Linked DNA regions of Homo sapiens. The protein of the gene in region 2 purifies or fractionates together with the protein of the main gene of each other region. This does not show direct contact. Each region holds a gene or a part of one and is shown on either strand. Other genes may lie near its edges.

Region 1 (3,691 bases), on a different chromosome or scaffold from region 2:
ATAAAGAATGATACTCCACCAACCAGCTTTAGAAATAACAGGGGCTATTCTTTAAGGCAGCGGTTCCCAACCTTTTTGGAACCAGGGACCTGTTTCATGGAAGACAATTTTTCCATGGATGGAGAGGAGGAAGGTTTTGGGATAAAAGTGTTCCATCTCAGATCATCAGGCATTTGTTAGATTCTCATAAGGAGAGTGCACCCTAGATCCTTCGCATGCGCAGTTTGCAATAGGGTTCACGCTCCTATGAGAATCTAATGCCTCTGCTGATCTGACAGAAGGCAGAGCTCAGGTAATGTTCACCTTGCCCTCCTGCCTGCCGGTCACTTCCTGTTGTTTGGTCCAGTTTCTAACAGACTGTTACATATAGGACTCTCCCTGTTAGCCTAGGAGCTCCTTAGAAGCAAAGGCTGGGAGTTCTCCCTTCTTGTCCTGCCCTGAAGCACTGAATTCCAGAGGGGAATAGAATTTCACAAACAACTCCAGTACTGCCTCCCCAACTCCCCTATCCCCAACACCGTGACGATAACCTTAGCAGTAATTTTAAGGCTGAGGTAAAAATGTGCTGTGGAAAGTGGGGCATTCAGACATGATAGGGCCCCTATTCCCACCAGACCCAGGGGCAGAAAACTGGGTGATTGTGTGTTTAGGTGTGATTGTGTGTGTATTTGGAGGTGGGAGGGGGCACTGTCTATTGTGGGACTATCAGTTGCAGGGCTGAGTTGGAACAGTGTGATGTCAAAATATGTTACAGAAAAATCTCTAACCTGAGCAAATGGCAATTCAGATCTCTGCAGAGAGAGGTTCAGATGAACTTTCCTTTTCACCTGCTCTTTTCTTTTCTGGATAACCAGCTGTTATCTTGCTCCAATTTTAATATTCAGTTATGCAGAGTGTTCTTTATGGAAGCTTGGATCATCACACTGATGATTCAAGTGTCAAGCCAAGCAAGGCAGCAGGCACAAAATTAATGTTTGCAAGACAGAACCAGGGGCTCCAAGGCTAGAGTGTAGCTGCCAGCCTCTTTCCATGCTCAGTGCTGGTCCACAGTCTTCCACTTTAGGTGAATGTGTGAGTCTTATTATTATGGCAAGCAATCACAGGCCTGGTGTACTGTCCAGCTGTTCTTGGACCAAGGGTGCTTGCTTCTCTCTCCCTCTCTTACTCTTCCTTCCCTCCCCTTCCCCTTCCCCTCTCCCCTCTCCTCCCAGATTCCCCCATCTGCTGGTGCCACTCTACAGAGAGGGGACAAATTGGTGAGGGACTTCCCAGGGAGGGGTCATTGGGTTTTAGCAGGCTGGTCACTGAGCTAGCGGATGACCAGAGGTGCAGAGGTATATTGTGGTGGGTAGTGGCTAGGTCTTGTTTTTATTCCATCTCTGTTGGTATTTGGGCATTTGGAGGATTGAGAGCCTTGACCAGAAGGGTGTGGCTTGCACCAGGTTTATTTATTTAAAAAGCCATTGGGAACCTATCTCACACACCAGGAATATGAATCATGTAGGGCCTTCAAGGAGTTCCCTTCCTAGATAGGGAGCTAGATGGGGACAAAAATAATAAGAGGAGGAGAGTAGAGGAGAAACAGTCCACCTCATGGTTCTCAAGTGGAATTTGGGGTTCCATTGATGACCGCATTAAAGTATCTTCCCAGCAGGACAGCCAATAGAGGGTCTGGCTTAGACCCACCCTCATATCACCTCTCTGAGGGAGAGATATTGATAGGCCTCTTGAATGGCGAATATTGAAGCCCAGAGAGTACCTTTCTTGAGGCTCCCATTTCATTGTCTTAGCAGGTTCTAGATTGCAGACCTACTTTGTGGATGTGTGAGGCTCCTATTCTGAGATTCTGAAGCCTGAGCATGGTTCTGCAGGCAATTTAGGAAGCTTTGGATGGGAGGTGAAACTTCAGGTCCACTTTTCAGTCTCAGACAAAATGTCAGTGAGAGCCCAGACTAATATGAAACTGAAGCTTGAATCCAACAGAGCCCTGTGAGGACTCAATGGACTGTTTTGCCAGATGGTTTTCAAAAATTCTGTGATGTTGGAGCCAACATCCCTTTTGCCTTTCTTGTCTCTCCCTATCCTCATCCCCTTTGATAATTGATAATACCTCCCACAGCCAATAGCACCACTAGGCCTTTCACACAACTGCAGGTCCCCCTGCCCAGTGGTCCCCTGAGCTTAGGATGGTCTGAAGGGAGTGGACCCAGCAAGAAGGTAGGGGATGAAGGCTTCTTGTTGCTCAGTGTAGAGTTTTGCTTCCTTGGGGCCCAGAGAGAGCTGGCCCAGCAAGCCAAGCATATCGAGTGGATTAAGATTTGCCCCACATTTTCCATCATTTTCTTTCTTGTTCCACTCAAGCCTGACGTCCGGTGAAAGCAAACCCAGCCTGGATGCTTGCTCACTAGTATCTGTCTCTCTGTCTTTGTCTCTCCTATCTCCTCCAGACCCCACTGTGATGCTTCCTGACTGATAATGTTATAACAGTGCCTGGAAGCCTGAGGCTGCATTTCCAGCTGGACGTACCTCAGTTGTCCCCATCATCATGGAGACCCAAAAGGATGAAGCTGCTCAGGCCAAGGGAGCTGCAGCCTCTGGGAGTACCCGTGAACAAACAGCAGAAAAAGGAGCCAAGAACAAGGCAGCTGAGGCGACAGAAGGACCAACCTCAGAGCCATCCTCATCCGGCCCAGGTAGGCTGAAGAAAACTGCCATGAAACTCTTTGGTGGCAAGAAGGGTATCTGTACTCTGCCTAGTTTCTTTGGAGGGGGACGGAGCAAAGGTTCTGGGAAAGGCAGCTCCAAGAAAGGTCTCAGCAAGAGCAAGACCCACGATGGCCTGAGTGAAGCAGCCCATGGCCCTGAAGATGTTGTCAGTGAAGGAACTGGCTTCTCCCTGCCTTTGCCTGAGTTACCCTGCCAATTTCCCAGCTCTCAGAGTGCCCATGGGGCTTTGGAGACAGGCTCCAGATGTAAGACATCTGTGGCTGGAGCCACAGAGAAAGCTGTGGCTGAGAAGTTTCCCTCTATGCCCAAGCCAAAGAAAGGCCTAAAAGGCTTTTTTAGCAGTATCCGCCGTCACCGGAAGAGCAAGGTCACTGGGGCTGAGCAAAGTGAGCCAGGGGCCAAGGGGCCTGAGAGGGTCAGAGCCAGGCCTCATGAGCACGTGAGCTCAGCCCCTCAGGTGCCCTGCTTTGAGGAGACCTTCCAAGCCCCTAGAAAGGAAAATGCTAACCCCCAAGATGCCCCTGGGCCAAAAGTTTCTCCAACACCAGAACCTTCTCCACCAGCTACTGAGAAAATGGCCTGTAAAGATCCAGAAAAACCCATGGAGGCCTGTGCCTCAGCACATGTGCAACCCAAGCCTGCCCCTGAAGCCAGTAGCCTAGAGGAGCCCCATAGCCCAGAAACAGGGGAGAAGGTAGTAGCAGGAGAGGTAAACCCACCCAATGGCCCTGTGGGGGACCCACTGAGCCTCTTGTTTGGGGATGTGACATCCCTGAAAAGCTTTGATTCATTGACAGGTTGTGGTGACATAATAGCAGAACAGGACATGGACAGTATGACAGACAGCATGGCCTCTGGGGGCCAGAGAGCAAACCGAGATGGGACCAAGCGAAGTTCCTGCCTGGTGACCTACCAAGGAGGTGGGGAGGAGATGGCCTTGCCAGATGATGATGACGAGGAGGAA
Region 2 (3,691 bases):
GGAGCGCGGGAGCAAAGGTAAAGAATGATGTAATGCGCTGGCTGCTCCAAAGCATCTTTTGTTGTGGAATGGTTATTCCAGTCATCTCTTTATGAATCAAATGTGAGGGGCTGCTTTGTGGACGGAGTCCTTTGCAAGAGCACATCAACGGGAAAGAGAAAGAGACATTCACTTGGAGGGCTCTTGCTGAAAATGGGTTTAACTCTCCTTTTGCCAGTCACCACCAGCCTGACCTCATACACTTTTAGTACAATGGAGTGGCTGAGCCTTTGAGCACACCACCATTACATCATCGTGGCAAATTAAAGAAGGAGGTGGGAAAAGAGGACTTATTGTTGTCATGGCCCATGAGATGATTGGAACTCAAATTGTTACTGAGAGGTTGGTGGCTCTGCTGGAAAGTGGAACGGAAAAAGTGCTGCTAATTGATAGCCGGCCATTTGTGGAATACAATACATCCCACATTTTGGAAGCCATTAATATCAACTGCTCCAAGCTTATGAAGCGAAGGTTGCAACAGGACAAAGTGTTAATTACAGAGCTCATCCAGCATTCAGCGAAACATAAGGTAAACGCTTTCCTTTTTGCCTTTTCAAAATAAATGGACACACTGAATGAGGAATAATTTTAATTGAAGCCTCCTCTTTAAGTAGAGAAAGTAATTTGAGGAAGTTTTGGTTGCTTTTTAAATTTTGGTGCCTTGTGGTACCTCAAAATAATTTATTGTCCATATTGCCACATTTAATAATATTTCTAAACTATGAAGGATTAACTTGCTTTAGTTTGGACAAGTGCTATATTTTCTTGTGGCTTGCTAAAATGATTTTATTAAACACTATTCTATATTATCTGCAAATTTACTGAAAGGAAAGTCATTCTTTTCAAGTTCTTTGGAAAGAAAGTAGGAACTAATTATTAGGGGTGCTTTTTATGTGTCATAACACATGTGGTAACATTGGTCAAGACTTAATGATATCTTCAAGGGAAGTTATTCCTGGGATACTAAAATGTTGTCTGTGTGGTGAGGAAGTTGGTTTTTTTCTTCACAAATACAAATGAGCTCATGTTTTAATTTAAATAAACAACTGATTTCTTTGTTAAGGTGTAAAAGTCATTTTAAAAAAAGTTTGTTTAGGTCCAGGGTTATGTTTATTTTGCATATTGTTTGGTTTATTATGAACTTTACCATTTTATAGTATAAAGGATTTAAAACCAGGGAATCGTGAGATCACCTACACAGAAATAGCATCATTTTGGTTTTTAAGAGTTTTGTATGTGTCTGTCTCGTAAATTGACTACATCTCATTTTTATTCAAATTATTAATTGAAAACAGGAAGCAATTATTCGCCCCAGCACTGGTAAATGTGAGATCTTAAGCAGTAGTTTGAGATTACTTTTCTCACCTTCTTCCTAACAAGCCTCATGTTTGCATTTCAGGTTGACATTGATTGCAGTCAGAAGGTTGTAGTTTACGATCAAAGCTCCCAAGATGTTGCCTCTCTCTCTTCAGACTGTTTTCTCACTGTACTTCTGGGTAAACTGGAGAAGAGCTTCAACTCTGTTCACCTGCTTGCAGGTAAGGCTCGTGATGGAATTAAAAGGACTCAGAATCTTGCTGAGCTGTATGAGTAAGCATATTTCACTGTGAACTCAGTACAATAGATCATCCCAACTTTGCTGTGTAAAATGATTTATTTATAGCTTTTGATTGATGTCACCGTTCTATTTAACTTGAATACTATATCATTCTTCCACATAGGTCAGTGTATTTTTGACTTGGCTCAAGTGCCTCTTTGCTTGCTATTAACTGGTAGTGCCACATAGATTTGCACACCCATATGGATAGCTCAAAGCCAGCTGCTTCTGTCTGCCTTTTTCCATTCACCTGTGATGTAAGAACACCAAATGATGAACATCTCAGCTCCTGCTAGTTCCCACCCCTGTGGCAAGAACCAGACCAATATTACAGTGTCAAACTCTTACTTAACATTTATAGTTGGAGCGGACTCCAGAGATAAGCCTTATGGTCACCTTTCTGGGCATTATAAACAATGAAATAGGGGGAGAATGTGTGCAGAATGTTTCTTCTGGTAATTAGGGGAATTGTTTTAAAAGTTACTTGTATATTTTTATTTGTTTTATAATTAAAAAAAAGTCTCAACGTAGAAATGCTAAGCAACCAGATGATCTTATAAAGTGTGTGGGAAGGACCAAATATTCTATATCTCTCCTGGAGGACGGCATTGTAGGAGTTAATCCCATCAAATTCCAAAGAAGGCTATTCATCCTTTGCTTCTCGTTTTGCAAATGAAAATCCTTTCCCTTGCCCTGTGGGCTCATAGAGCTGGGAATATAGTTTGACAACACACAGTAACCTTAACATAAAGCTGCTGTGTTGGGCGGATTCAGCTTCAGTGATAGGCAAGAGTGCTTTTAAACATTTGGTCTAAGAAAAACAAAACATTAAGATTAATTAGTTGTTGGTGTGTTAATAATTTTAAACTCTGGGCAGGTTTAGATAAGATTTCCATGTCTCCAGTTCTCTCTCACAAGCTTTTCCTCAGTTCTCTAAGAACAAGGATAGTTCATCTTTTTCAGATTGTCTATCTGTACACCTTTCATTTATGCTGTGATTCCGTCTGATCTTTCAATTAGTGTTCTTAAGTGAAGCCAGCTTGTCTTAGAATGTAGTTTTCAGAAGTCTGTAACTGAGAATTATAATATTAGATTCTGTCTCTGTTGATAGACACATTCTTTTACTGGGAGTATGAGTGTGTTAAATGTAACAGCTATTATTAGCATTTCACTAAACTAATTGGGTGAGTTTAGGAACTCATTTCATGTTTCAGGTGGCCACTGTGTGAGGGACTTTACCTTGGAATCCTGTTAATGGGATCAGGGTTTTTCTTTTCTTTTTTTTTTTTTGAGACAGAATTTTGCCCTGTCGCCCAGGCTAGAGTGCGGTGGTGTGACCTTGGCTTGCTGCAACCTCTGCTTCCCAGGTTCAAGCGATTCTCCTGCCTCAGCCTCCCAAGTAGCTGGGATTCTGAGCACCTGCCACCACGCCTGGCTAATTTTTGTATTTTAGTAGAGACCGGGTTTCACCATGTTGGCCAGTCTGGTCTCGAACTTTGACCTCAGGTGATCTGCCTGCCTCGGCCTCCCAAAGTGCTGGGATTACAGGCATGAGCCACCACACCCAGCCAGAGTCTTTCTTAAAGAAGCAATATGCCAAGATGTGCTTCGTGACAGAGTGGTTATCCCACCATGTTCTTGTTTGAGTTACTTTTACCCTATGGGGAGACCTTACTCAACATCTCGGTCAAGTAGACAGCCCCCCAGAGGAGTGAGCTCACATTGAGTTTCTAGCACAGGTGCTTTAGCTACTTGTACCCTTTACTCCTTTACCAAAGAGCATTCCTTTGTTACCTGGGAAGGTTCTTAATCTATCCTGTGTAGCCTTGGGAGGGGCATTCACTGGGCAATAAGGAAGAAACAGGACTGCCTGATTAGCTATGTCAACTCTAGGGACACGTGGTGTGACACACTGAGTCAGAACACCCTGACATCCCTGTTTCAAACAGGAAGTGTTTCTTAGGCCTAACGGCAAGTCCATGGAGGCAGCACCAGGAGCCACATTAAATGTATTAGTAGCACCATATCTTCATCCATACCTCCAGAATCCTGTGT

What was found.
Region 1: the proteins of DUSP16 (region 2) and AMER1 purify together in Homo sapiens (affinity purification with mass spectrometry; one large-scale study listed by BioGRID and IntAct). This does not show direct contact.

Annotation. Positions count from the first base shown.
Region 1 is NC_000023.11:64,192,141-64,195,831, reverse strand, and holds part of AMER1 (APC membrane recruitment protein 1), read left to right. Parts: intron 1-2,447; 5' UTR 2,448-2,545; coding exon 2,546-3,691. UniProt on the Homo sapiens protein: Regulator of the canonical Wnt signaling pathway.
Region 2 is NC_000012.12:12,517,748-12,521,438, reverse strand, and holds part of DUSP16 (dual specificity protein phosphatase 16), read left to right. Parts: 5' UTR 1-340; coding exon 341-568; intron 569-1,438; coding exon 1,439-1,577; intron 1,578-3,691. UniProt on the Homo sapiens protein: Dual specificity protein phosphatase involved in the inactivation of MAP kinases. Dephosphorylates MAPK10 bound to ARRB2.